4 linked regions of the Homo sapiens genome follow. The protein of the gene in region 2 interacts with the protein of the main gene of each other region in a pairwise test. Each region holds a gene or a part of one and is shown on either strand. Other genes may lie near its edges. The genes, in order: FBF1, TASOR2, GPRASP3 and RFC5.

Region 1 (7,763 bases), on a different chromosome or scaffold from region 2:
TAGCTCTAAGCACATCGGCATTACTTCCCATACCCAGTACGTTCTTAACCCTGGGAACCTGCTGCCACTGGTCAGTGACAGATGAAGGCCACGGCCGAACAAATGAAGTAACTGTTGTTGGAAAACCTGGAAACCACTTGATCCAACTTATTATTATTTTTTTTAGACAGAGTCTCACTCTGTCGCCCAGGCTGGAGTGCAGTGGCATGATCTCGGCTTACCACAACCTCTGCCTCCCGGGTTCAAGCAATTCTCATGCCTCAGCCTCCCAAGTAGCTGGGATTACAGGCGCCCACCACCACACCTGACTAATTTTTTTGTGTTTTTAGTAGAGATGGGGTTTCACATGTTGGCCAGGCTGGTCTTGAACTCCTGGCCTTAAGCGATCTGCCCACCCTGGCCTCCCAAAGATCTGGGATTACAGACATGAGCCACCGTGCTCGGCCTGATTTTTCTTTAGACCTGTGTGCCCATGGCTGTCATTTGATCCTGTTCCTGTTCTCTGTGGGTAGAACTGTCCCTGGTTCATGTGATGGAAGTCAAGGTCTCTGTACTTCGTGGTGTTCTACAGACAGCACGTGGCCTGCCACCTGAGCCGGTCCAGGAGCCACTGCTCACTGGGCCTCAGCTGACTGTGCAGGGTCCCTGGGCATCGTGACGCCCAGCTGCAGGCTGCTAGGGGGCCACTGGGACTGGCTGTTTCCCCTGCCTGACACCCTCCTTTCTGTCTTGAAGTAGGTTCTTCGCAGACAGTGGCGCAGACCCCAAGGGAGAACCAGGCTCCAAACAGAGCCCTCCAATGGCTTCCAGCCCCATCCAGCCCAGGAAGGGAGGAGCTGACTGGTTGGGCCTCAAGGACGAGGACTTGGACCTGTTCCCTGCCTCACCCACCAGAGAGGCCCATCGGGAAAGTTCAGTGCCTGTCACGCCCTCAGTGCCTCCTCCTGCGAGCCAGCACTCCACGCCAGCTGGGCTGCCCCCCTCCAGGGCAAAGCCACCAACTGAAGGTGCAGGGTCCCCTGCCAAAGCCAGCCAGGCTTCCAAGCTGCGAGCCTCCAAGGAGGAGAAAGAGGACTGGCTGAGCCATGCCCTGTCTCGGAAGAAGTCCCAAGGCCTGGCCAGAGAGCAGCATGCTGGGACCTCTGAGGGCCTGCATTTGGCGGGGACAGCGGGCCATCCCCCTTCTGGCAGGTACTGACTTAGGCTGCTGTGGCTAGTAGGGGGAGGACTGGCTGGGGACTTGAGGAGCCCCTTTGCCCCTTCACCTGTTGCAGCCTCAGTCAGCAGTTGGGGAACAAGGCAGGGCGCCGTGGCCACAGAGGCCGCTTCTTGGCTTTGCTACTCTGCCTTTTAGGCACTGCAGAGAGAGCCTCTGGCTCCCAGGCTTGCCCCAGGGACATACCCAAGAAGGAGGGCTGTTGACATTCATGCCCTGACCGCCATGGGGACAGGTGCTAACTTGATCGAGGAGAAGACAGAGGGTCCCTGAGGTGGCAGACACACCGCTGCCCTGTCACAGCGCCCTCAGGCTGGAAGCCCCGGCATCCAAACAGCCGGTGCTTCTGCCGACTCCACTGAAGCGAGTATGGCGTGTGTGAGCTGAGATGTCCCTGTGCTCTTTGAGAGTGTTAGAGGAGACATAGTGGCCGAGAGGCGCCTCTTGGAGAAGCCCTTATCCGTGGGGCAGGATAGCGAGTGACCTCTGAAGGCAGGAAGGCACAAGGGGCCAGCAGGCTGGGGGAGTCCAGAGGAAGTGGTGAGATGTGCTGTGGCCAGAGCCCAGGGGAGTGAACTGGGCAATTTGTGACAGCCCAGGGACATCACCCTGTCCTGGGGTTGATGACAGGAGGGCAGTTTTGACTTTGACCTGAGGCCGAGGGGAAAGCTCAGGCCAAAACAGAAAAGAGCCTGTCTCTTCACTGACCCGTGAGCCGAGAAAGAGGTGGAAATAATGGGAAAGGGAGCCAGCCAGATTTGGTAGACTGAGCAGAATCCTAATCTAGAGCTGAGCCAAGTTAAGTGGACTGGAACAGGGCTCTGAACTTGAACTTGACTCCAGTGTCTATAACATTTCCGTTGTCACTGCTTGGACAGTGTCCATTCACTGCACCACTGTGGACATTGAGGCAGGAAGGGGGTACTGGAAGGGAAGAGATGCCCAGAAATCCCAGGAGCTCAGACGTGGGAGGAGAATGCCCCAAGACGGGATGGTGGAAGCAGGAGGAAGGGGGGCCACGAGCTTCACGTGTGAAGCCCGTCCTGGGCCCTGTCTTCATCCAGCCTGACCTGGGCCTTCTGTCACCTTCACCTTGAACGCTGCCTTTCCTCAGCCAACCTCTCACCAGCACACAAGGGCTTGAGCACGCAGCTGCTGGAGGGAGTTCTGGAACAACTGCACGAGAAAGACCGTGTGTCAGGCCTGGTGTCTCGGGGTAGGCCTGGGCTGCGGGCTGAGTGGGAATGAGAGCATGGTGGGCAGCACAGGCCTCTGTCCTGAGAGAGGGACACAGAGGCTGTTCACCCTGCCCCTGCCCCGTCCCCGTGTCCCACACAGAGGCTGCCCACCCTGCTCCGTCCCTGTGCCCTACACAGAGGCTGCCCACCCTGCCCCATCCCCGTGTCCCACCTAGAGGCTGCCCACCCTGCCCCGTCCCCGTGTCCCAGCAGAGGCTGCCCACCCTGCCCCATCCCCGTGTCCCACGTAGAGGCTGCCCACCCTGCCCCGTCCCCATGTCCCACCTAGAGGCTGCCCACCCTGCCCCGTCCCCGTGTCCCACACAGAGGCTGCTCACCATGCCCCATCCCTGTGTCCTCAGGTCCCCTGTGACTCAGAACCATGCCGCCTCAGCACTCCCTACAGGTTCCCCAAAGAGGGGAACAGCCCCTGGAGACCTCTCAGCCACTGGTTTGTTTTTTGTTTGCTGCTTCATTTGGGAGTTTAACCCTGGGTGAGGAAGAGGTGCTTTGAGCTTCCTTTGGGGTCCCTGGGACATGAGTTACACCAGCCCCTCCTGGACACTCGCAGGCCCAGTGCCCTGGGCCTCCTGTTCATTTCTCTGTTGTTGATGTTTCAGAGCCTGCCACGTGTTTCCCGAGCACCCAGAAACCCACAGAGCCTTCCGTGCCCGTCCAGGTAGGGGTGTGGGCAGACAGGTCTAGCTCAGGGCCTAGGGAGCAATTCTCCATGCCCAGGGGCAATACCCACAGTTTGACCTGACGACCTGCCAGGAAAAATGTGTCAAACATACCAAATGTGACGTCAGCCAGCTCCCCGGGCACCCCCCACTAGAACTTGCCTGAATTTCTAGCCTCGCTGCTCCTGGGCAGAGCTGGGTGTTAATTTGCCTACATCAGTGGGGAGTTTAAGGAGGCAGCCAGGCCGGGGAGCTGGGATGCTGCAGTCAGAAAGCAGGGCCGCAGGGTCCTGTTCTGTCAAGAAAGCCTCCTCCACCCTTGCCATCCTCCCACCACACCTCTGCCTCTGTTTCCCATGTGTGGCAGTCACCTGTGACACCTGGGCCTGGGAGGTGTGCCCCCCCCCCCCCCAGGAGTGTGTCCCTGGGAGATGGTGGGTAGGGGACAGCTCGTGGGAACCAGATTAGTGTCAACATGTGGGCTTCAGGCCTGACAGGAAAAGCCAGCATCAGCTTTTGTCATAGCGAAGACTCTGCTGGGGTTCAGCCATTTGTCTGGGAAGCCGGAGACCATGCTGGGGAGGAAGCTGTTCCGGAGGGTGGAGGGAGACATGCTCCTGACCAGATCTGCAAGGGGAGGTACACTGGGGACTGCTTAGCCGCAGTGACTGTTACTTTCCAAGGCCTTGGCCCCATCTGCAGCCACAGATCAGATGCAGGGAGGTCCAGTGAGCAGTGGGCCAGGAGGTAGCTGATCTCAGCTGGGCCCCTGTCCCCTCCCTAACTAGAAACACCTCTCTTCCTCTCCTCCAGCCCCTGCTCCCAGAGTCCCTGGCCCGGAGCCTGCTGCCGAGCACAGAATACCAGAAGCAGCTCCTGGCAGCACAGGTGCAACTTCAGTGCAGCCCCGCTGAGCTCCAGGCCGAGCTGCTGCATAGCCAGGCCCGGCTGGCAGAGCTGGAGGCCCAGGTGAGGGGCAGCGGGGCCGTTGGTGCTGGTGGCAGGGTTGCGACAGGAGGGGACACTGAGAGTGGCTGGAAGCTTCCCCAGGAGGGAGGAAGGGCTGTTGGCACAGGGCAGCGTGGAGTACAGCCACCTCCCCTCCCTGGTTGCTGGCCCTCCTGCTGTCTCCCAGGTGCGGAAGCTGGAGCTAGAACGGGCCCAGCATGAGCTGCTGCTGGGGAGTCTGCAGCAGCAGCACCAGGCAGACCTGGAGCTCATCGAGAGTGCACACAGGTACCCTGGCGCTGGCCCCAGCTCTGCCTTGGATCTCACACTGACCCCAAAGGCCACCCAGTGTGCCTGGAGAGGCCTTTAGGCGGCAGCCCTCTGCCTTCCTTGCGCCATGGCTGGGTGTTCTGTTGGCAGAAGCCGCATCAAGGTGCTAGAAACATCGTACCAGCAACGGGAGGAGCGGCTCCGGAGAGAGAACGAAGAGCTGTCAGCTCGGTATCTGTCGCAGTGCCAGGAGGCCGAACAGGCCCGTGCTGAGCTTACGGCCCAGCACCAGCGGCGCTTGGCGGCCATAGCGCAGGAGAAGGACCAGGAAATGGAGCGGCTCCGGGAGCTGCAGCGGTGAGGCCCAGGGACAGGCAGCTGGGGAGCAGGCTTGCAAGGAGTAGCCGGAAGAGAGCCATCCCCACGAGACCCTTCGCTGTGGCTCAGCAGCCTTTGGACAGGGGTTGGGTCCTTCCCTCCCAGTCCAGTGAGTGAGGACTGAGGGCTGAGCACACTGACCCATCACACCCATGGGTGGGGGTGCCACCTGCTCTTACAGAGGCAGGAGGGGGTACCCACAGGCTGTTCAGGCATGGCATGGCAGCAGCAAGCCGCCTAGGGTCTAACTAAGCACAGGGTCATCCACTCGCCTGCTCATGCAGTAGAGGCTAGAAACAAGATCCACCTGGGAAAGGCTTGCGCTGTTGTGCCTGCCATGTTTATAGGGTTGCCTTTCTAGAAGAGAAGGAAACTAAGAAAAGTTACCTAAGGGAGTCAGAGGTCGATGAAGGCAGAGGCAGCCTTTTAAGACTGCTCAGGGCCGGGTGCAGTGGCTCACACCTGTAATCCCAGCACTTTGGGAGGCCGAGGTGGGAGGATCACTTGAGGCCAGGAGTTTGAGACCAGTCTGGGCAACACAGTGAGACCTCATCTCTAAAAACAATTTTTAAATAAGCTGGCATGACAGCTACTCCTGTAGTTCCAGCTACTTGGGAAACTGAGGCAGGAGGATACCTTCAGCCCAAGAGATCAGGGCTGCAATGAGCTATGATGCCACTGCACTCCAGCCTGGACCACAGAACAAAACCCTGTCTCTAAAAACATTTAAAAAACAAAACACTTGGGAGGCCAAGGCAGGAGGATTGCTTGAGGCTAGGAGTTCAAGACCAGCCTGGGCAACATAGTGAGACCTCATCTCTAGGAAAAAAAAAAAAAAAAAGAAAGACTGCTTGGGGCCGGGCGTGGTGGCTCACACCTGTAATCCCAGTGCTTTGGGAGGCCAAGGTGGGTAGATTGCCTGAGCTCAGAAGTTCGAGACCAGCCTGGGCAACACGGTGGAAACCCCATCTCTACTAAAATATAAAAAATTAGGCGTGGTGAGCGCCTATAGTCCCAGCCACTCGGGAGGCTGAGGCAGGAGAATTGCTTGAACCCAGGAGGCAGAGGTTGCAGTGAGCCGAGATCATGCCACTGAACTCCAGCCTGGGCGACAGAGTGAGAGACTCTGGGTGACAGAGCAAAACTCCATCTCCAAAAAAAGAAAAGCTGAATAATGGGAGGAATGCCCATCTTAGTGCGTGTAGCATTGAGGCACCATGACAGATAAGACAGAGGAGCTGGGGAAACTGAGGCAGTGCCCGGCGGAGGAGAGGCCTGGGAGCAAGGGCTGCACGGAAACACACCCTTCCACAAGGAGTTACCGCATCAGGGTGATCCAGCTCAGAGTGACCGCCTTCCCCTCCCGCCTCCCCTCAGGGCGTCCATCCTAGACATGCGCAGAGACCACGAGGAGCAGCTGCAGCGGCTAAAGCTGCTGAAGGACCGAGAGGTCGATGCGGCCACCAGTGCCACCTCCCACACGCGGTATGTGCGCTGCCCCAACCATGCCCGCCTGACGTTGGGGGCCGGAAGGTCCCCGAGACCGTCAGGAGGGGGTGACCCAGTCTTCTTCCAGGTCCCTGAATAGCATCATCCACCAGATGGAGAAGTTCTCCAGCAGCCTGCACGAGTTGTCCTCCCGCGTGGAGGCCTCGCACCTCACCACCTCCCAGGAGCGGGAGCTGGGGATCCGGCAGCGTGACGAGCAGCTGCGGGGTACGCCCTCCCCTCTCAGCCACCCCGGCTCCTGGTGGGAAGGGGGAGCAGCTGCTGAGCACCCTGTGGGTTGCCCCCAGCACTGCAGGAGCGGCTGGGCCAGCAGCAGCGGGACATGGAGGAGGAGCGGAGCCGGCAACAGGAGGTCATCGGGAAGATGGAGGCACGGCTGAATGAGCAGAGCCGGCTGCTGGAGCAGGTGAGGCCCGTCCTCCTGGCCCTCCTGCCCCTCCTGCCACGGGGCCTCTTCTCCAGGGCACCCGCAAGTGTAGCGGCACTCCCGTGACCTCACTTCCTCAGGAGGTCAAGGCCCCACCTGCCGCTTCCTGCCTCTACATCTCCCTGCCCTGGCCAGGCTCTCAGCACTGCCCACCTGAGCATGCAGGGGCCGCCTGGCCAGGCCCCCCACCACGCCCTGTCCGCTCCTCAGCACCGCAAGCCCCTCGGCCACCTTGGCTGCCCTCCGCAGTCTAGCCCCCGCAACCATCAGCTGCACTTCCCACTTCCTGACACTCGAATCTGTCACATTAGCTGAGGCCTGACATTGGGACAGATGCTCTTGCCCATTAAATGTCATCCTAGCCTCTTCAGCTCTCACAGAGACATTTGAATTCCCTAGATACCTTTCATATATAAGCACATGCTTTATTTAAATAATGATGACCTTAGCCAGGCACAGTGGCCTGTGCCTATAATCCCAGCTACTTGGGGGGCTGAGGCAGCAGGATCACTTAAGGCCCAGAATTTGAGACCAGCCTAGCGAGACCATAAATAAATTTTTTTATGCCAGGCAAGTTGGCTCATGCCTGTAATTCCAGCACTTCAGGAGTCCAAGGCTGGAGGATCACTTGAGGTCAGGAGTTCGAGACCAGCCTGGCCAACATGGTGAAACTAAAAATAAAGAAATAAGAAACTAGCCAGGCGTGGTGGCGCACGCCTGTAATCCCAGCTACTAGAGAGGCTGAGGTGGGAGAATCGCTTGAATCTAGGACACAGAGGCTGCAGTGAGTGGAGATCATAACATGGCACACCAGTCTGGTTAACAGAGCGAGACTCTGTCTCAAAAAAATAAATAATAAAAACATTTAAATTTTGTTTTAATTAACTGGGTGTGGTGGTGCACACCTGCAGTCCCTGCCTTTGCTCACATCCTTTTCCTTACCTGTGGAAATCTTTCTAGGCTGAATTCAATGGTAATGAATCTTTCGATGCTACCACCTCCACAAAGCCTTCCTTGTCCTCCCACCTATCTTTTTGTCCTCAGCTAGTAGTTATCATCTTCTAAGGTTTTACAAAGCACTGTTATTTTTTAGAGAC
Region 2 (7,166 bases):
GCTAGTTGAATCAAAGTAATTGCTTGTCTCAAGAAGACCCAACTACGGACAAAGGCTGGGTGCATAAACCTGCCGTCATCAGCAGGCAGTCGTCGGTGCTGGCACCAAGGGGAGCTGGAGACGAATGACGGCGAAGTGAGGTGACCTCACTTTTCAGTGCCCACAACCTCAGATGTGTCCTCTTCCCTCATGACGTGTTATTTCCAACCTTTGGGAGTTTGAGACCTTTTTTTAATGAACTAATTTTGTTGAGTTTGCAGCCCCTGGTGATGATGAGCTCAGTTAATATGCCTCATGCAGGGCAGAATGACCAGTCGGTAATCCAGGTTGAAATATTTTCAGTTGTTCCTGAACCTTGACTCTCTTGGATAGAAAAGCAAGGGAGTGTCTAAGAAAATGTGCCCAGTGAGCCTCTCTTCACCGGGGTCCTTTTTGTGTCATGCAGATTCCTTCTTTGCTGAAGCTGAAGCATTTCCCCAGTGTCATCTTTGCTGGAGTAGACAGCCCTGGAGATGTTCTTGATCACACCTACCAAGAACTGTTTCGTGCAGGAGGCTTTGTGATATCAGATGACAAGATACTAGAAGCTGTAACATTAGGTTGGTCTTTATTTTCTTTTCCTGTTTCTTTGAAGTCAGATCAACTTCTCACCCAGTGACCTAAATACTGTTTCATCCAAAAGAAATGATCAACTCTAAGGAATATCAGTTGCCCCCTACTGAGGCATAATTTCTGCTGTCTGCTGTGCTCTTTTCATACAGTGATTCTCTTATAGCAATGCTTTTCACCTCTTTTAACTGATTCTTACCACCACACTTGCTTCTGAGTTCCCTCCCTCTCGGTAGTGCAGCTAAGCTCCTAGTAACACAAATTCAGGATTTTATTATATTTAGTCTCTTCACTTGCCAAGTCAGAGCAGCTCCATATTAAATTGTTTGCTTAAAGTCAACCTTCTCCATTTCTGATGTCAACACCCCTACCATCTTGATGTCACAAAAATCTAAAAAATGGCTACTAAGTCAGCTTATTTAATCATCTACTTGAAAACTCATACTTTACTTCTCTCAGGGCACTTTTATGTATAAAACCTGCCCCGGCTCTGATCACATTGGAAGTGATACCACTTCTAGATCAAAAGCAGCATGTACCTTAACCAGTGTGACTTCTACACAGAACCTGGGATTTTAAATATTTGTAGGCACACGTCTGTAATCCCAACACTTTGGGAGGCCAAGGCAGGAGGATCCCTGGAGATCAGGAGTTCAAGACCAGCCTGGGCAACATAGTGAGATCCCATCTCTACAAAAAATAAAAATACTAGCCAGCTGTGGTAGTGTGTGCCTGTAGTCCCAGCTAAGGAGACTAAGGATGGAGGATTACTTGAGCCCAGGAGGTTGAGGCTATAGTGAGCTGAGATCATGCCACCACACTCCAGCCTGGGTGACAGCCGAAACCCTGTCTCAAAAAAAAAGGATTCTGTATTTAGAAACTTCATTTCTCTACTGCATCGGGGCCTCCTGCTTCTCTTCTGTCACACAATTTGTACACAGAACTCTAGTTGCTGGTGACCACTCCACTGTGTTCGTGTCTACAGAGTTATCTCCCACCATAGTGTGAGCAGGTGGGACCAGGCTGAGGGGCTTGTGAGAGCAGGATGCTGCCCAACCACATAAGTGACAGTGATGGTGTGTACTCAACCATGGGTCTTAGTCTGTTTTTTTCTTGTTTTACAAATAATTATCACTGGGCTTGGCATGAGCCAAAAGTACCTTAAACTTGTCATCTTCTTTTGCTACATTTATTGTTTTGTAGTTCAACTGAAGGAAATTATCAAAATCCTGGAAAAACTAAATGGAAATGGAAGATGGAAGTGGTTGCTTCACTACAGGGAAAATAAAAAGCTAAAAGAAGATGAAAGGTAAGGACTTGCTGTGTGTATGGTTCCTCCTGCCCTGCTGGGGTAGCAGAGAAACGCCTCATGTTCCATGGGCTCTAGCCTAGTGCTGCAGTGGAATGGCCTTCATCAGTAAAGAGCATGAGGGCTGCTGGCTCTGTATTCAATGAAGGAAGCTATGTGCTGTGACCGTAGCCAACAGTATGAGGCATGTACTTATCTAGACTAACAGAAGTAAGGGAGTCAAACTTAGCAGTCATGAAATGTCCATATTCTATTTAAGCCCTACTACTACAAACTTTAAAAAATATATGGAACTTGTACCATTAATGCTTTTTTGGATACTTATAAGTTGCCACCACTTTAAGGAGAATGGAAAAATTAAGACCATAATCTATCCTTAATTCAGTTGTACCCTAAAAGAAGAGGCTTATAAATACGCAAACTTCACTAAGTCTAAAGCTGTAATTTATAAAAGAAAAAAATACATGTTTGATTCCTTGGCTGAAGAGAGCTGGGGCTGAGAGATTCCTCCACATTCTCACAAGCAGGACCAATTGGAAAAGCAGACCTGACAAGCCCTTGTGAAATAAGGATTTCAGGCACTGTTAGGTGCATCCATTTTCATTCAGACTTCATCCCCAGGAGCTAGATAGCAAATCCTCACTTTTATAATGCAGAACTGAAGCAGAGTAGATAACAAACATGACCAAGGTCAAACAAGTAGTAAGTTATGAAGCTGGGTTTCAATCCCAGAAAGACGAAACGACTGTTAGCTGTATGTGACCTTTGAGGAACAGAATCTCAGAAAGCTTTTCTCTTGAAGTGGAGCTAGCAAAGGAGAGAAGGAGCACAGAGGTTTCCTTGGCAGGAAAGGAGGGTGCAAAGGCTTCAGCAGGTCAAGGGTATGACCATTCACAGCGGACTTCAGTAACCAGCACTTGAGGGGAAAAACGTCAACTTCGGTAAGTAGAGAAGCACATTTAAGGTTCTGATGTACCACAGCACACCTATAAAATAAGCATAAATCAATCTAGCACTTCTAGGGCTTTGGGTAGAGAAAGTCATGTCACTTAACGACGGGGATACAGCCTGAGAAACGTCATAAGACGATTTTGTCTATGTGCAGACATAGAGTGTACTTACACAAACTGATATGGTAGAGCCTACTCCTAGATTGCAAACCTGTACATGTGACTGTACTGAATACTGTAGGCAGATTTAATGCAATGGTGGTATCTGTGTGTCTAAACACAAAAAAGGTTCAGTAAATTACAGTAGTATAATTTTATGGGACCACCATTGTATATGTGGTCCGTCATTGACTGAAACATCATTATGTGGTACATGCCCGTACTCACTGCTGTTGGCGCTGCAGTATGCTCTTCATATTATACCACTCTGGCATTATGTAACAGGCGTTATGTATTATTGAGAACTCATTAGAAAACTCTTCATATCCTTTGACCTTTTGTGGAATTTACCCAAAATTCTAGGTGGTTATCAGTCATTGCAAAACCAACCTCAGTTCCATCTCTAGGAGGGAGATATGCAGACTACAGTTAAATATTTTAAAGTTTATACAAAATAATGCCCACCCAAAACTTACACAATAGAAGCATGTAAAAAGTTTCTATTCATAGAAAGAGGGATGGCATAAAAGTTGGTATCATGTAACTATGTTCAGTATGATGTCATAAAAAATTTATACAGGAAAAAGTGAAAGGAAATTAATTCATGATGTTAAGAGTGATTATCACTAGGGTTATGGGAATGGGTGTGATTTGGGTTTTCTCCAACAAGCATGAGAATGTAAGTGATGAAAACTAGAGAGACGGGAGTCGAGCAGAGACAGAAATGCTAAAAATTTAAACATACTGAGTTAACACATTTTCCTAGTAGTGATAGAATTTTCAGGGAAGCAAGAAACCAAGAAAATTCTGGCTGCTACCTAATTTTAATGAAGTTGGCGATTATCTGCCCACAAGGTATGAGAAGTATAGATGTGCATTGCTCTACAAATATACAACGCAATAAGGCCCACTCGAAATTCATGAAAGGCTTGCCAAGCCACATGGCTTGATTGGTCGTAGGTAGATGCATGATGTCCCTCTTAGAATGAGGCCCATGTTTAAAATCCACATTTACAAAAGGAGTAGGTACAATTGTGATGTTTTGAGGTAACCAAAGTGTGTCATGAAAAAGAACGTCAAGAAGAAAGGCAGAGGAACTCATGAGTTTGAATGGTTAAACTGAAGGCAAGAAAAAGTCCTAAGAATAAAACTGAAAAATATTTTAATATGCCTATGTATCTTTCACAGAGTGGATTCAACTGCACATAAGAAGAACATAATGTTGAAGTCATTTCAGAGTGCAAATATCATTGAATTGCTTCATTATCACCAGTGTGACTCTCGATCATCAACAAAAGCAGAAATTCTGAAATGTTTGCTAAACCTGCAAATTCAGCATATTGATGCCAGGTTTGCTGTCCTCCTAACAGGTAATTCACAGGCGCATTTTACTCAGTTAATGCCAAAATTGGTCAGCTCTAGGAATGTCAAAGTTAGATACCTGATGAAGAGTATCAGGTATCTAAATGGCTTGGCATCCCATGGATACCAGAATCACCCAAATCTGCTGAAGCTGAAGCCCTTATATAAAATGTAGTATTTGCAGGTAACTACACAATCCTCCTATGTATGTAAGTCAGTTCTAGATTACTTATAATACTCAATACAGTATAAGTAGTTATACCGTATTATTTTTTAAATCAATACTGGGGCTGGGTGCAGTGGCTCACACCTGTAATCCCAGCACTTTGGGAGGCCGAGGCGGGCGGATCACTTGAGGTCAGGAGTTAGAGACCAGCCTAGCCAACATGGTGAAACCCCATCTCTACTAAAAATACAAAAATTAGTCAGGTGTGGTGGTTCATGCCAGTAGTCCCAGCTACTTGGGAGGCCGAGGCAGGAGAATGGCTTGAACCCCGGAGGCAGAGGTTGCTTTTAAAAAATTTGTGGGGCAGCCAGGGACAGTGGCTCACGCCTGTAATGCCAGCACTTTGGGAGGCTGAAGCAGGTGGATCACTGAGCCCAGGAATTTGAGGCCAGCCTGGGCAACTTAGCGAGACCTCATCTCTACAGAAGTTGGCAGGTGTGGTGATGTGTGCCTATAGTCCTAGCTACTTGGGTTAAGGCAGAAGGATTGCTCGAGGCTGCAGTGAGCCGTCATCACACCACTGCACTGTAACCTGGGTGGCAGAACAAGACCCTATCTATCTTTAAAAAAAAAAAAAAAAAAGTGTTAAGAAAAATTTACGTAAAGAACCATAGTTATCATTTTTCAGGGATTTTTTTTCAGTACTTTAACCACCACCCCCGATGGAGGCATCTATTTCCAAAGCTTCAAATCTTTTCTTAATTTGGAACCCAACACCTTTTCTCCCCCTACCCCTCACACGAGGAAGTTCCACAGATTTTTTAAAATAAAAAACCAGGTCCTGTTATATAAAAGTACATTAATTATATTAACCAAAAGTTGTTTTTTTTTTTTTTTAACAGACAAGCCTACTATCCCCAGAGAAGTCTTTGAAAATAGTGGAATCCTTGTTACAGATGTAAATAACTTTATAGAAAACATAGAAAAAATAGCAGCTCCATTTAGGAGTAGCTATTGGTAAGAACACTTTTTATGTAACTTTCCCATGTGAGTTGGAGTTGTTGATGGCAAATATTGACATTTGTGTCTAAGGGAAACAGTTGGGAAACTGTTGTTTACATACTTCATGCTATAAATTTAAAGTGTTTGTTTAGGGGTGGAATTGCTATTTGGCATAAATAGGAATTCCTAAATTATCACTAAATGAAGTAACCATCTACTAAAATTACCTATTTTATCTAATGTGCATTTTCACTTGCTGTTAACTTGGATCGTCAGTACAGAACATAATGTAACCTTAGAATGCATAGGCGTTTTCCCCATTAGAGCATCCCGCTTATAAAATATTTCTTGTTCGTATTATTTTAAGAAGTTCTTTATCAATTTTGTGTTTCTTCAGGTGACTCAACTACAGCCTGCCTGGATATGGATGATGCCAATAAAAAATTAGTATTTTCCCTTTGGAAAACTTGTGAACATGTGAATACACATGTGAACAGTCTTACATTTGAAAAACCAATGTTCTACAACTTGGAAAGTTTTCATTTTTTATATTTTGCTGAAATATGTCACAGTGGCATTGCAGTTGTCTGTTAGCTTTGGGTTGCAGTGCTAGATATTGTTTTAAATTATTTTCATTTTAAACAAGATGCCTTCTAAGCTATTGAGCTTATTAAAAATAATTTTACATGTTTACTTAGTTGGAGCAAAAATAAGTCTATTTTAACAAATAGCTTTGTTTTTGCATGCTAATGTCAGAAAGGCATACGATGCACATTATGCTCTGTTTTAAAGGTTTTACCACCCTTGTAAAAACTATAATCTTAAATGGTTTTATTTGCTGTTACACAAACAACACTACATAAAACATTTTTTCCTAAATGGTACAAATTTATAAACTATCATTTTTCACTTACGGTATTTGTAAATACTACACTACAAAAATCAGCTTTCTGAGAAAGAAATAATCATTTATTTATGATATTGAAAATTTCTACAGTAAACACTCAAAACCAAGCAAAAAACATTTGTAAGATACACGGTATCTATTTGGAGCAACGGTTTTTGTAACTAATGTGTTTCATTTTTTAAATAAAGACAACTAAAAATAATCTCTTTCTGCAATGATTTTTATAGCAGAAATTGACTTATCTGGAGTGTTCTAGCAATTTTTAGGTCATTTAGCAGAACAGTAAGCTTCCAGAGGAAACCTACACTTCTATCCTTTGGGCCTGGCCTGTTCTGTTTCTGGGTTCTTTCCGCAGTCAAGTACACCGAGTAACAGGTTAAAGAATGGCAGTTTCACCTGGCCTTTACAGGGACACTTACTTCTTTCAGAAGTCATTAAGTCGGCTTTTATTATTCCTAAACAAAAGAGCTTTATTTTCTCATGAGTAGGTTTTAGAGTTTTAATTGTTGACAATTTTTCAGTTACTAATAGAACCCCAGTCATTTCATTTTATTTTTCCAAGGACAAGAGTCTATTAAGGGAACCATTAACTATTCAGTACAGTGAATTACTTTCAGATTACTAAGGAAAAGGAAAGTGAGCAGTTATAAGATGCCAAACACCTATCTATCTGCCTGAAATATGCACCTTTCAGGTTGGACC
Region 3 (7,763 bases), on a different chromosome or scaffold from region 2:
AATGCCCAGGCTTGCCTACTAGTAAAAGATAAAGCCCCTTGGCCTTTCATATGACACATAGGAGAATAAATCATAAATGGTAAAAAAAAAAAAAAAAAAAATTAAGGTATGATTTCGCAAGGAGGAAAAAAGCAATTACCTTTTAAATTCAGGGTATAAAATGATTTCAGCTCTTTGGGAAAGAAAAAATACAAATGGATAGAAAAAGATACAAAGGACATCTAACAAGTTTCCCCTGCTGATGACTCCAAATCTACATCTTACTCATTGAACAAAGTTTTAGGCTCCTACTATTTTCGACACTGCCAGATAAAATCCATCTATTTACCTCAGAATTTTCTCCTGACCTCCAGCCAGATGTAGCCAAATGTCTAATGGACACACGAATTTGGAGGAAGTTAAGAATTGTAACACCTGGCATGGACATGATCCATTGCAAAATTAAACCATTCAAACCAGTCTCTGAGCTTTGAAGGCCCCCCCACCTCAAAATGTCCTTCAGGAAGACTGTAAAGCAGTGTGGTGAGATGGGTTCTGGTGTCAGACAAAACAGCTATGCCACCTTCCTGCTGTGGGAATCTAGGAAAAGGTATTTAACCTCTCTAATTCTCATTGGAGGGTACCCAGAATAATGAGTTCTAATAAAAATATAAGTAACTAACTCACAAGATCACTGTGAGAAGAGGAAAAAAACTTGTAAAATATGGTGCCAACACAGTGTTTGACATAGAATAGGCACTCACAAAACGTTTCCTGCCTTCTCTTTTGTGAGATAACTTTGATGTAAATGAAACAGCCTAACAATTTAAGAGTTATGAATGTAGTAGCAAAATTAAAATTGAACAAATAATACATTTTGTCTGAGATTCTGAGTCATTTCTGTGTTGCGGAACGAGTATCTGATACAGCTGGAACAGGAGAAAAATAGTTTCTCTTACATTAAATAGCCTATAGGAACTCCTGCCTCCTTTATGTAGAGTGCGCACATTTGGCCATGAGCGTGCACGTGCACACACAGAGACACGCACACTCACACACACTCTCTCTCTAGGTACTGTTATCTTTGTGTGTGTGTATGCCTTACTTCTGTAACTAGATTACAAACTCAAGGATATTTTCTTTTTTGCCATTTTAAGCCACAGATACTAATGAACAAGTTAGCTTACTTAAAACGAACTGGTTTGCTATCTTAAGTAAAATGTTAAAAATATGCCAATCTAGACAAGATAAAAATCAAACATTTTCAGCCCAAGGTATAATATTCATTTGATACCCCCAAAATAGTCTAGCTCAAACCTAGAGCCTGTCACAGGTGACTCTGTGTTAAAGATGCAGTGTATAATGTGTACACTGTAATGTACAGCCTGCTAGAGTTTGAAGATGGCTTAAAATGTTCTATCTCTGGCTCATTTTACATTGTTTCAATAATCTCTTTAACTTCCCTGAAAATGGCCATGAGTGTATTATAACTCAAGTGATCAACAACTACAATTGAGCCTTTTCTGATATGCTCCTTTATGTTAATAAATATGGCCACACCACTAACAAGATTGGCTTTTGCCTCTTTCTGGTTAAAGATGAGTTTTAATGCTGCCAATGCCTTCATATTGATCATGTCTCTGGCTGCAGTTGGATTTTCAGACATATTTAAAAGTAGTTTCAAAACAAGATTTCTGGTTTTGCAATTTCCTGAGGACAGCAAATGGAAAAGCTCTGAAAAGTAATTGGCAACAATGTAGTGATGGACAAAATCAGTAGTCAGTTGTCCTAGTATCTTTAATCCAGATTGCTGTCCCGGTGAGTTCAAAGGAAATGACATGGTTTCTTTACACATATGCTTAACATGTAATTCAATTTTGCGTTGTCTTTCATCCCCAGAAGGAGGATTCAGAGTAATTACAGTCTTTTTTCTCATTTCAGGGGAAGGAAAACTGAGCAAGCTTTCAATAAGTGTCACTACACCTACTTCGTTAATAAACTCTTGGGCAAATGGGTGAACATTATGGACACCCATTGCAATCCGTGCTATTTTATGAATAAGAGGATCAGTAGTTGACTTAAGTAAGCTAACAAGTTTTTCAAATTCCTCAGAATCCATATAGCATTCCATTTTGCAAGGACAAGCAAATGGCTTAATCCCATTTACCTCCCTGATCCTGATTTGACGTCTAATCTCATCTATGGTCTGGATGCAGGGGTCAGAATCAAAACGACACTCAGGGATAGGCTGTGAGCATGAGCGAGTGTTCCTAGAAGGGCGGCAAGCTGTTGCCACAGGCAAAGAACAGGCATTTTCTTCAGCGGAGGCCAGAACAATATATGAAGGAGGGCTTGCCTCAGATGGTGCCTGGGATCTAAATCCTAACACAGCTGGAGTTACAGCAGGGGCATTGGGCCAGATAGTTACCTCAGACCAGTCCTTGGGCCTATTTTTTTCATTAATTTCATACACAGGCTGAGGCTTAACTATCCTGCTCACAGGTTTAGGATTAGGGTCAAAACTAGTATCATCTCCTTCCCAAAACCAGTTCCCAATAACATTCTCTTCCTCCTCCTCCTCAGCCCCTGACCTAGGTTTGCAATCGGCCCCAGCCGCAGGTTCCAACTCCTCAGCACAGACCTGGGCACCAATTTCAGGTTTATCATTCTTAGTGCTGAAACTATTACCAGCCTCTTCTCCATTCCAGAACCAGGAATTGATAGTGGCCTCTTCCCCAGCCCAGAACCAGGCATCAGTACCAGCCTCATTTTTACATGTGGAGCTGGTGGACTCATTCCCAGCCTTGGGAGTGAAATCTCCCATGGCTTTGCCCAGAGTCTTAGGCTCTGACAGAGCTCCTTCCTTCGTCTCAGCAACAACCTTGTTCTTAGACACTGCCTTCATCTCTGCTACTGCATCTGTCTTAGACCCTGTCTTGGCTTTTGCTTTGGCCCTGGTCTTGGCTACAGGCCTAACAACACCAGTAGCCTCCCTCTCTGCTCCAGCTTTAGCTTGTATAGCAGCCTTTTTTTCAGTTTTGGCCTGGGCTCTTGTCTTATTCTTAGTCCCAGCCATGGTTGAAGCCCAGTTATATGGCCCTGTCCAGTCTTGGCCTTGGTTCTCAATGTGTCCTAGGTCGAAGTCTTAACACTCTTTCACTGGGTCGGGGAAAAACTTGGTAGCAAGAATTAGAGTCAACTGTCAGTTCTGCAGTCACAAAGTTCTCTTTCCAAACATACAGCCTCTGTCAATGATACAGAGGGCAGAGGCACGCTCGGGCTGGGGGAGAATGATTGTTCCCAAGTGCAGACCTGCTGAAGGTGATGGTCTTCCAACAATCCAAAGCCACCACAGCCACCAGTGGAGATGGACCTGAGGTTGAAGAAAGAAACTGGCTTTGAGTCTTGTCTAACTGTGCTTCTCTATGCAAACAGCCACACAGAAGGACATAGGAGAGTAGAAATGAATTGTGTAGAAGTGGATTAATAAAAAACTCTGCTACTTAATTTTATACCTTGCACACTGCCACTAATGCTCAACAATGTCCTGCCCAAGCACTGTCATTCTTTTACTCTGCATCAAACAGGAACAAAGATGGCAGGTAAGCTTGCTGAGAGTGAGAAAGGCTAAAGGAGTGCCCAGTCTCTTTGGACCCATGCTAGTAGGTCCACCACTAAAATATATACCACTAGACCTCATAGGTGTATTCAGGCAGCACTCACACCAACCTGCACTGATCTAGTGCAATTTTTCCTCCTTCCCTGTTTGCAGTGTTGATATGCCCTATAGTTAACTCATGGGCAGGCCTATGGACAAAAATACAGATGGGATTGGAGTTCTGAGTATTTGGTTGACAGACCTACACTCTAATCTCTAAACCCAATTTCTGCCTTTCCAAATCTAGGGCTTTGGTTATATAACACTTCTGGCCTCCTAGTACTCCTTGTGGCTTATCTTCCCATTTCCTGCCCCAATATCTACCAATTACCTCATAGGCATAATCCTGGCTCACCCCACCCCATCACTTGTACACAAATGTGAGGTCAGAGGTGACTAGAAAGATGGAAGACAGTGGCACCAAGATATGATCTGGTCTAACCCACTTGGCAACAGCCTTTCCATAACCCCAATCAACGGGGGTGCTCACACATAAACCTACCTTGAATCCAAATGAATAGTTTTTGTTCTTTCTTAATTAACTTCCAAGTGAACAGCTACATACAGATCTCTACAGGAACCTAGAAAGAAACAGACCTAAGGATAGAAAGGAAGGCAGAGGAAAGAAAACAGAAGAGACTAAGATGATCTAATGCCTATAACAAGGATTATAACATATGCTTTTGAATATTCAAGGCTATGTTAAATGTCTCCCACCTGTCTGCTCTTCCTCAATGATTCCCTAATCACCCCAAGACCTGCAGCCTGATTACACCTCCTGCCAACTTTGAAGTCAGTCATTTTCCCAATAGAAGTTACAGCTCCTTTCCTGAACCAAAAAAAATGAGGTGCAGAAATAGGTAGTGGAACATAGGCAATTGTACTTACAAGGCAGGCAGGGAACATAATGGAGACTGTTATTTTAATACCATCTGTGCATGTCCTTCCCCTTCCCCATGCATACCTAGATCCTACTTTATTCACCACCTATGTCAGCCTGCTTATACAGCAGGAGTTCTCAGGAGATGCTATCCTTCCCACCAAAGAAGAGTCACGCCCTACAAAAAGAAGGCGGAGCAACTAGCAAAAAATAACCCCAAGAGACTATGTTAACAATGGTAGAAAAATAGCAGGTTAATGGACAGATTCCCAGAATTCGGATTCTAACACCTCCTTTTTGAGAATCAGAAACTAAGTAAATAAAGTCTCCCAACTCTCATAGCTCCTCAGATATCCACCATCAGAAATGCCATGAATTCTTCTGTGGGACTATTTCTGCACCAAAATGAGAGGGTCTGTGAGGAGTGGCTGGAGATGGAGTTTTGGTTTCCAGAACCATAAACTGAAGAAGCAGATTGACTTCAAATGTTCTAAATTGACCCTTCAAAAAGATTACCCCTCTACTCGGAACCCACATTCTCACACATCATTACATTACTTAAAGTGGATCAGCATGTTGAGAAAACAGATCCTGAACAAGAAAGGTGGAAAAATACTACCCTGTTATTTACATGGACCACTGTTGTGAAATTCGACTAAGTCCACACCCTATTTGCTTGCACAAAACTGGATGTGGGGATCTAAATATGTAAGGCAATAAAACAGTGCGGTATTATAAAAGGCGGTTAAACATTTCATTTTAGTGTCTTCATAATTCACCCACTCAAAGTTCCACTTTTGGAGAACCCAACAGACCTATCACGCAGACAGGAGACTTTAACAACCACCTGGAGCCTGTGGGAAGGGACAGCACCCAAGACACGGGGTCCCACAGGCCCCTTTCCGGAATCAGGGCCCCGAGTAGCGAACGCGGCCCACCTCTCGTGGGCTGGGCACAGAGCTGGGACGCCGGCTCCCCCCGGCCTTCCCGGGAGCCCCCCACAATGGCTCCCGCTCCGCCATTTCTCCCGCAGGAGCTCCCCCACAGCCCTTTCCGGGCACAGACACCGTCGAGGGCGGGGCGCCGGCGCCTGCAAAGCTGGCTTGGAGGCGGTCAGCGCGGTTCTCCTCCAGACGATCTGACGGTGCCTCTCAAGCCAGCCCCTCAGCCCTTGGCCTGGCTCGGCCTGCACCGGTCACCGCCTCCCCATCGCCAGGGGTCTCGAGCACTGCGCACCTCTCTCCGGCGACCGGCTCCGACCGGATCGTCTCCTCCTTGCCAGGATGTCAGGGTCGGCGGGGCAGGCTGCCAGCCGGTCCACCCTGGCGGACCACCCCAAGCTCACGCACCCCCACTTGCCTTCAGAGGCCCAGGGCCCAGGTCGTCGACCTCCCCCTCCTCTCCTCAGCTCTCCTCTGGCGGCTCCTCACTTCGATTCTCACCGCTTTCCCCGCTATCAGAATGGCAAAGACGCGTCCCGCCCCCCACGCCTCTGCACCAAACTGGGCAGGGGCTGCGCAGGATGCTGCAAGAACCGCTCTCTCCGCGAGGGTGTCGGGAAGGGGGGCGGAGGGATACGGCGCGAAAGTGCTCGACGCCCCCCTCTCAGGCCCACCTTAGTTCCGACCCAGAGGTGGGCGGGGCCATGACGAGCCCCAGCCTGGGCCTGCGGGTTGGCACCAGGCTGCCTCAGGAGGACCCCCGCGGACCCTAACGTGGCGACCACCACCACCACATTTCTGGCGTTGCTATAATATAGGGACGGGCGGGCGGCTGGGGACCCAGGCAGGGGACAGGATCAGGAGGTTGGGAAGAGCCGCGCTGGAGGGAGCAGCGGATGGATACCAAACCGCCCCTTGGTGTGTCTGCACCCCCGCCCCAACTCCCCAACCAGGGACTGCTGGGTGTCTGCCCCTTCCCTCTCCCCAGCCCTCTCACTCTCCTTCCTGGAAGCTAATGGGAGAGGGGGTGTCAGCAGTGCAGTCTGGGAGGGGTGAGGCGATTTCAGGCCAAACAAGCCTGGGCCTCTAGGGTGGTCCTCTTGTGCGTTTCTTTCCCAGCTTCATGGAGCCACGCAGGGGAGGAAGGTACACCTGCTCTTAAGTGAATTCTGGGGCAGGGGGCTCCCATCAAGGCCTCACCACTGCCCCTCTTCTAACAGAAGGTAGACCTAGACCTCTAACCCTAGGAAACCAACCACTGGTCTGTACCAGACTCATTTCTTTCTGCCACGCCGCTTTTTCTCATTTCAAATGGTGGCTCAGGTTGGCATTGCGCCGTCCCCACAGTTGACCCCAAAAGAGGGCCTTTCCCTGTCAGGACTCGCAGGAGGTCGTAACAGTCCTCTCTCTTTGATGGCACCAGGTAGGGATGGTCTTGGCGCCTCTCCACTGTTCTGGGAGGAGAGGGGACCACTATTCGCGCACTTCCTCGAGGCAGATCCCAGATTCCAGCTGCGCTCCTCAACTCCTCCTTTTCTCCCAGCCTTGCACCCTGCCTAATGCATGCATGTGCTTTTTTCTTCTGAATATATATATATTTTTTTACTCTCCCTTCCAAGCGATGGGGAGTTTGACTTGTTAGACTGGAAGTTTCCTGAATGAAAGTACCCTTTTGGTATTGTTCCCCACTGTATTCTCAGCACATTGTAGACGGTATAGTCAGTCAAGGGTTGAAGGAGGTGAGGGGCTACTGAATCATGACAATTCCATGGTACCCTCTGTGGTTTGCAGATCAATGCTAATTCATAGGTGTGTCTTTGCTGCCTGTAACCCCAGGGCTTAGCCCAGAGTATGCCACCCACAGCTGCTTTCTGTATGGTTTTTCAGTGTTGGAAGGAGCAAGAGAGGAAGACAGAGATTGTGAAGCAATTCCTAAAAGTACCAATACCTGCATTTTAAAATATAGAGCACAAAGAGGCAGAAAAATATGATCATTTTCCTGGTCATTTGTATTCCCTTTGTGGATGCCTCAATCAGACACACCAATATATGTGACTTAGGAGATACTAGTCATACTAAGAGAAACAGGAGTTTCAATTGCATGTCACACTACTTTTTGATGAATCACTCTAGGTTATGATTCTTAACATTTGTGTGTTCTTATTGGCTTTGTCCTTTAAGCTTAATAGTATTAAAACTTTAACACATTGTCTTAAATACGAAGGACATAGGCCTGCAGATTCTGATGTGAGAGTTTTATTTCTCTAGTATAATGCTTTAAGTAAATATATGCAAGAATATTAAA
Region 4 (6,795 bases), on a different chromosome or scaffold from region 2:
AGCAACAGAGCAAGACCCTGTCTCAAAAAACAAAGAGAGAGCAAAAGAAAATGTTTTAAAAACAAAAGGAATCATTTGTTGCAAAGAAGGCAAAGGGAGGGAAGGATTTGGCACTGGAATAGCCAACAGGCTGTGGCATCCTCTGATGAGGTGACTCTTCCGGTATTGAATATGTGGGTTCCCACTGCCTTGTGCCCATAGAACTTTGCTGCTCACCTGCATTGCTGCCTTGGCAATTTCTTCTTGGCTCCCTGCAGCTTGGTGGCAGCTGTGACAGCCACTGTGATCTCCCCTTTCCCCCTCTGTCTACACAGAGCACCAATATGGCCTTTGGGAAGGTGACAGAGGAGACTGTCTACACCTGCACCGGGCACCCGCTCAAGTCAGACATTGCCAACATCCTGGACTGGATGTTGAATCAAGATTTCACCACAGCCTACAGAAGTATCCTTTCTCATGACCTCCTGGCCACCGAGACCTGAAGGTGGCCCCAGGAGTTCAGGTTGCAGCCAGCACCCACACCTTGCTGGCAAAGGATGACTGGCTGCAGGCGACTCTGGTCAGCTTGTTGTGGGAGTGAGATGTCTGTAGGTGGAGTGGGTACTTGTCTTTAGCACTCCAGAGTTCTTCTTGGAGGGCTCTGACCTTCAAGTCAGGGTAAGGCTTGAAGCAGCTTCACTCACAGATGGGAGAAAAGCTTAGGCCTTGGCATTGAAGATGCAGGAATTTTCAAGTGGTCATGATAGTGATAGCTCTTGTGCTGTGAAATGAAAGGCTAGGAATGGTGACACAAAGCCTTTTTGGAAATGCATTTGGGGCTGGGTGTGGTGGCTCATGCCTATAATCCCAGCACTTTTGGAGGCTGAGGCGGTAGATCACTTGAGGTCAGGAGTTCAAGACCAGCCTGGCCAACATGGCGAAACCCCGTCTCTACTAAAAATACAAAAATTAGCCGGGCGTGGTGGTGGGTGCCTGTAGTTCCAGCTACTCGGGAGGCTGAGGCATGAGAATTGCTTGAACCCGGGAGGCAGAGGTTGCAGTGAGCCGAGGTCATGCCACTGTACTCTAGCCTGGGTGACAGAGGGAGATTCCATCTTAAAAAAAAAAAAAAAGAAAGAAAGAAAAAGAAAACGCAGTTGGCTTTATTCTCTACTAGAAGGAGTTACAACTCTATCTTTCAGAAAGCCCTTACTGAAGATGAAACAAAGAAAAATAAAGAATTGGAGTCCAACACGTGCAGCTTCAAGTTGAAAGAGAAACAGTTGTGTTGGGATTAAAAGCCTTACTTTAAAAAGTCTCTTGCCCGGGTTTGGATTCAAAATTCTCTGCAGTATGTTTGTTCTGGAACTTGTTCCCTTTGCCTTAACTGCTCCTCTAGATATTACAGAGTTGAAAACTCTGAAGGGGTTGGCACTGCATGATATCCTGACAGAGATACACTTGTTTGTGCATAGAGGTAACTTACATTATCCCCCAGCTGAGAAGCTGTGGAGAAGGTAGCCTGCTTTGGGGTTAAGGATGGTTAGGACAGGAGGCTTCATTCTTGAAGCAAAGAAACTAATGAATTGTAAATCAGACCCTTCTTGTTAGCAGTTCTGTCTTGCCACTGTTTAAAATTTTGTTCCAGAGCTGGGTACGGTGGCTCAAGCCTGTAATCCTAGCACTTTGGGAGGCCAAAGCAGGCAGATCACCTGAGGTCAGGAGTTGAAGACCAGCCTGGGCAACATGGTGAAACCCCGTCTCTACTAAAAATACAAAAAATTAGCCTGGCATGGTGGCGCACGCCTGTAATCCCAGCTACGTGGGAGGCTGAGGTGGGAGAATCATTTGAACCTGGGAGGTGGAGGTTGCAGTGAGCCAAGATTTGCCACTGCACTCCAGCCTGGGCGACAGAGCTAGAGTTTGTCTCAAAAAAAAAAACAAAACAAAACACAAAAAACGTGTTCCATAAACCCTCTTTTAATATCTAGAACTGCTGGGGAAAGTGAAAACTCCTGGAGGCTAACTTTATTTCCTCTAGGGGTTTATATTTTATAGCAGTAAGTAGTATATATTAATTCACATTTCTAAAAAAAAAAAAAAAGTCTGTCTATCTATCTGTCTATCTAGATATATATTCCCAGAAAAGAAAGAGAAGATATGTAAACCATGTAAACCAAAGCAGGCTTAAGGAAAACATCTTAAGTTCCACACTTGCCTGTACCTTCTACACAGAGAATTGGTTCTCAACCTTGGCAGCAGATAGGGGCACTCCAGACAAATTAAGTCAGCTTCTCGGAGGACAACCAGGCATCCGTATTCTCTAAGCTCCCCAGGTGACTTGTGTAGGCTTTCGGAGAAGCTCTTCCTTCCACAGTGGCCAACTGCAAGATGGAGACTTAACCGGGTCAATGAATGTTGGTTCTGCCCAGGCCTTCACAGGCCTCTTCCTGGCTGGCCCATGCCATGCCTTCTGCCCAAGGTATGGTTGGCTCAGGCCCAGCTCTGCACCTTGATTGTGGAAGCTGAGCATAAACCAACTTTAAAAAATCAGTTGTTTGTGCTTGGTTTTTAAATGGGGACAGGATCGGTATAGTGGCTGACGCCTGTAATCCCAACACTTTGGGAAGTCAAAATGGGTGGATCACTTGAGCCCAGGAGTTTGAGACCAGCCTGGGCAACACGGTGAAACCGCATCTCTACAAAAAGTACAAAACAGCCAGGCAAGGTGGCGCACACCTGTAGCCCCAGTTACTCAAGGGTCTTGAGGTGGAAGATCCCTCAAGCCCAAGAGGTCAAGGCTGCAGTGAGTCATGATCACGCCATGCCATGGCACTCCAGCCTGGGCAAGACAGTGAGACCCCGTCTCAAAATAAAGTAAAATATAAAATAAAAACAGCAAGTGGGAACTCAGCATTCAAGTTAACTTGTAGAGCTACCCAGCTGCTAAGAGCAGTGTGATCTTTGGTGCTCTTAGGATCACTTTGGTATCTGCTCATTTTCCTTTTTGTCTACCCTATAAAGCACAAAATCGAGTGGGTAAAAAGTATGAAACCAGCACTGTTTCTACTTTCTTAGAGGTCTGGTATCTAGTGAGCAGGCTGAGGCCTCAGGACTAGTTCAGTGTTAAGGATTTCATGTTGAAACTCATTTGTCCTCTGTGGGTTTTTTGACAGTAGAGAGTGACCTAACTCATTTGATTTTGTTTTTCCCTCAGTTGACTTTCCATCTTCAGTTCGAATACATTTATTGACCAAAATGGCAGACATTGAGTGAGTACTTCTTGCCCCAGTTTTAATTCTTTTCTTCCTTTTTTCCCCTGTTGTGAGTTATTTGTTTCAACTTTCTTGGTTTCAGGTTTTTTTCCTAAATCGTTCACATACGGTACAATCTAGTCTGGTGATATTGAATGGAATGTGGGGAAGGGTGTGAGCTGCTTAAAGAACATGGGGATAAATTCACAGGTCAAGTACAGATCAGTTACATATCTGAGATGAAGGCCTCTCCTTGGACCTCACAGGCTCGGCCCACATTGATTCTGAAAATGCCCTTGTTATTTGGGAGGCCTGCTTTGCTTCAACCACCCAGCTGTTATTAAGGCATTTTGGCATACTAAAGCATATTGGGGGGAAAAGTAAACACAAACTCAATTTTCTGCTTTGCCTGGTTCCGTAAACACTGTTATTAGCCCCCAGTGAAGCTGGCAGCTATCATTTAAGTAGACAGAGCATTGGGTTCAACATAGACGTCAGCATAGGCCAACTCTAATTTGTGGCATTGGCTTTCACAGGCACAAATTAGGTCACCTCTCCTCATTGCATTGTGAATATGATGATTTTGCTATCAGTGGCTGGGCATTTAAAAGGTGGCGAGATGAACTCCAGTGTCCTGCTTTACTGACTAGACCACAGACCCACCAATGTATCAGCCAAACTTCCCGATGAAATGGCTTAAGAGGAAGGAAATCTCTGTTTTGTTTCCCTCTTAACGTATTTTGCCGACGAAATAATCCTTCATTACATAAATTTTGTATATCTGTATAGTTAGGACAAAGTTAAGTTCAGAACACCGCTGTTGACACCTAATAATTTATTTCTTTTTTTGAGACAGAGTCCCACTCTGTCGCCCAGGCTGGAGTGCAGTGATGCAGTCTCGGCTCACTGCAACCTCTGCCTCCCAGGTTCAAGCGATTCACCTGCCTCAGCCTCCTGAGGAGCTGGGATTACAGGCATGCACTACCATGCCCAGCTAATTTTTGTTTTTTGTTTGTTTGTTTTGTAGAGACGGGGGTTTCACCATGTTGGCCAGGCTGGCCTCCAGTGATTGGCCCGCCTCCCAAAGTGCTGGGATTACAGGTGTGAACCACCACGCCCGGCCTGATACCTAATAATTTTTAAAATTGAATCGGTCCTTACAAGTTTGAAACATCACATTTATAAATCAATGTGTAGGGCAGAGAAGAAAATGTTAGGGGGACACATACAAGATTGCCATCCAGGGCACATTTGTTCTATCAATTCCCATCCCCACTCCTTCAACAGATTTTCAGCCCTAGATCTCTTGGTCCCTTAAGAAAAGGCAGCTGTGTTTGGTGTCTTTTTTCTTACCCTGTGTTTGGTTTCTGTTAGGTACAGGCTTTCTGTTGGCACCAACGAGAAGATCCAGCTGAGCTCCCTCATTGCTGCATTTCAAGTCACCAGAGACCTGATTGTTGCAGAGGCCTAGATGCTCTGAGGGCCATTCACAATTCTCAGGGCTCAGCAGTGATGGGAGAACAGAGGACAGTTCCAGGATAAACTGCTGCCTGGGGCTGTGGGATGAATCAGTCACCCCGAATCTTGGAAAAACCCCCTTCCAGGAGAGGATGGGCAGGCATTTAAAAAGTACCATTTTTGTGGTTGTTTGGAGCAGGGATGTACAAAATAATTTTAATGTATTAACTCATACTGCCTGTCTTTTATAGGGGAAAAAAATAACCTTTTTTATTTTAAAGTTATAAGGTTTTTACCTTTTAGTTGCTTGGATGACAGGGAATTAGCCTACCCCATTTTGGTCTGGAACAGAAGACTTTCAAATTTAATATGGTCCAAGTGTCTTCCTACTCAAGGTAAACATTATCTCCAAAATTACATTTATGATTCTAATATTTGGCATTGTGTCTGTATCTAATTTAAACAGATGTTAATGGACGTCTGGCCGAAACTATTATACTTTTATAAGATGAGCTGAATCCTCTTACTTTAAAAACTGGTCTTTTTATTTACCCTCTGTGGTAGAAGAGTCACCAGCAGGTTCCAAATTGATGTGTATGATAGGAAAAAAACCTTAATTTTAAATATAATATAGAGCCTTAAACTATGCCACTGGGTGGCAGAGGCTGTATAAAACGCACTTGTTTTCATGCAGGAGCGGGGCAAGTAAGGTTGAGCCTGACTGTAAACCTAGAACTGCGGAAGGACTGGGACTTTTGTACAAATTTCACATTTATTTTACAGCAATCATGCTGCATTTGTGTTAGTGTTCTTTATAATAAAAAACAAAGCAGCCTCCTGGCTGGCTGTGTTACAAGTGACTCTTCCTTAGACAGCTAGAAAGATGCTGACTTTGTCAAACTTGCATTTATATGAAAACCTTCTGTCTCTAATATCACAGAATAAACTTTCTTTAGATGCTGTTCTTTATAAAATGTCAAATTCTTAAACTGTCAAATGGAAAAAGTCACTATTCCCTTTGTTCATGGAGGACTCACCCCCTTAAGGACAGCGGCAAAGTATGAAGCTAAATATCTGATGGCCAACCAGGCCTCAAACCACCCAGAGGCTCAGCATCTGCTGTACCTGGAACTTCAAGATAACCATGAAATGTAAACGTTGGCCAATCCATTCCCAGCTCTTCTGCTGTACTACTTGTTTTATGTGTTTATTTTTTGAGGCAAGATCATGCTCTGTCAGTCACCCAGGCTGGAATACCGTGACACGATCGTGGCTCGCTACAGCCTCCATGTCCCAGGCTCGAGCAGTTCTCCCACCTCAGCCTCCTGAGTAGCCGGAACCACAGAACCACAGGTAAATGCCACCACATCCTCAGCCCCCTGAGTAGCTGGGGCTACCATGCACACCAGCACCACACTAAGTTTTTTTGGCTATTTATTTATTTATTTTTTAAATAAAGATTGGGTCTTATCTCACTCTGTTGCCCAGGCTGATCTTGAACTCCTGGGCTCAAGCAGTCCTCCCACCTCAGCCTCCCAAAGTGCTGGGATTACAGGCATGTGCCGTCACACCCAGCCCTGCTTGTTTTAAAAGGGGACTTTTTTTTTTCTTAATGGAAAAAAATGAAACAGAGAGCCAAAAGCTTTTAACTGTTGTTTTTTTCTTTTCTTCAATGAAAGCCTCTCATTTTGAAAAGACATGTTTTTCTTCAAGCAACAAAGGTGGTAGAGGAAATTCCTCAACTTTCTCAACGAGTCATGTAACGTTACACTGGCCTCCATAAAGCACCGATTAAGAAAGCTAAAGAATAAGATGTTGTATTTCTTTTAAAATAATTTAAAATATATTAAATTTTCCTAAGGCAGGTTTTGTTTGAATGAGGTGTCTTGATTAGATAACTACATGCCACTGAAGGAGAACAGTACTTTTAAGGAGCTATTTTTGTTTCGCAGTAGAGTTGAAACCAGCTGATTAATCCAATGAAGTTAAACAGCAGAGACAGATCTCGTACATAAGAGTATCAGCTAAAGTCATGACTACACCAATTCTTTACACAATTAAGACATCTTTGCAACTGTTCAATTTAAGTACTATGGTTTTTAGA

The links.
Region 1: the proteins of TASOR2 (region 2) and FBF1 interact in binary tests that used the Homo sapiens proteins (3 or more experiments, as listed by UniProt).
Region 3: the proteins of TASOR2 (region 2) and GPRASP3 interact in binary tests that used the Homo sapiens proteins (3 or more experiments, as listed by UniProt).
Region 4: the proteins of TASOR2 (region 2) and RFC5 interact in binary tests that used the Homo sapiens proteins (3 or more experiments, as listed by UniProt).

What each region holds. Positions count from the first base shown.
Region 1 is NC_000017.11:75,916,614-75,924,376, reverse strand, and holds part of FBF1 (fas-binding factor 1), read left to right. Parts: intron 1-735; coding exon 736-1,191; intron 1,192-2,330; coding exon 2,331-2,432; intron 2,433-2,816; coding exon 2,817-2,905; intron 2,906-3,074; coding exon 3,075-3,133; intron 3,134-3,947; coding exon 3,948-4,103; intron 4,104-4,269; coding exon 4,270-4,370; intron 4,371-4,502; coding exon 4,503-4,709; intron 4,710-6,107; coding exon 6,108-6,215; intron 6,216-6,306; coding exon 6,307-6,446; intron 6,447-6,526; coding exon 6,527-6,645; intron 6,646-7,763. UniProt on the Homo sapiens protein: Keratin-binding protein required for epithelial cell polarization. Involved in apical junction complex (AJC) assembly via its interaction with PARD3. Required for ciliogenesis.
Region 2 is NC_000010.11:5,757,075-5,764,240, forward strand, and holds the end of TASOR2 (protein TASOR 2), read left to right. Parts: intron 1-445; coding exon 446-599; intron 600-1,812; coding exon 1,813-1,918; intron 1,919-4,215; coding exon 4,216-4,397; intron 4,398-5,457; coding exon 5,458-5,572; intron 5,573-5,954; coding exon 5,955-5,958; 3' UTR 5,959-6,666; downstream 6,667-7,166.
Region 3 is NC_000023.11:102,744,288-102,752,050, reverse strand, and holds part of GPRASP3 (G protein-coupled receptor associated sorting protein 3), read right to left. Parts: intron 6,073-7,763; exon of another isoform or gene 5,877-6,072; intron 4,235-5,876; 5' UTR 4,140-4,234; intron 3,353-4,139; 5' UTR 3,056-3,352; coding exon 1,412-3,055; 3' UTR 1-1,411. UniProt on the Homo sapiens protein: Survival and differentiation promoting protein that plays a role in the regulation of neurosynaptogenesis. Induces phosphatase PP2A activity which results in APP dephosphorylation and inhibits BACE1-mediated processing of APP.
Region 4 is NC_000012.12:118,026,575-118,033,369, forward strand, and holds the end of RFC5 (replication factor C subunit 5), read left to right. Parts: intron 1-314; coding exon 315-444; intron 445-1,378; coding exon 1,379-1,456; intron 1,457-3,196; coding exon 3,197-3,251; intron 3,252-4,607; coding exon 4,608-4,704; 3' UTR 4,705-5,660; downstream 5,661-6,795. UniProt on the Homo sapiens protein: Subunit of the replication factor C (RFC) complex which acts during elongation of primed DNA templates by DNA polymerases delta and epsilon, and is necessary for ATP-dependent loading of proliferating cell nuclear antigen (PCNA) onto primed DNA.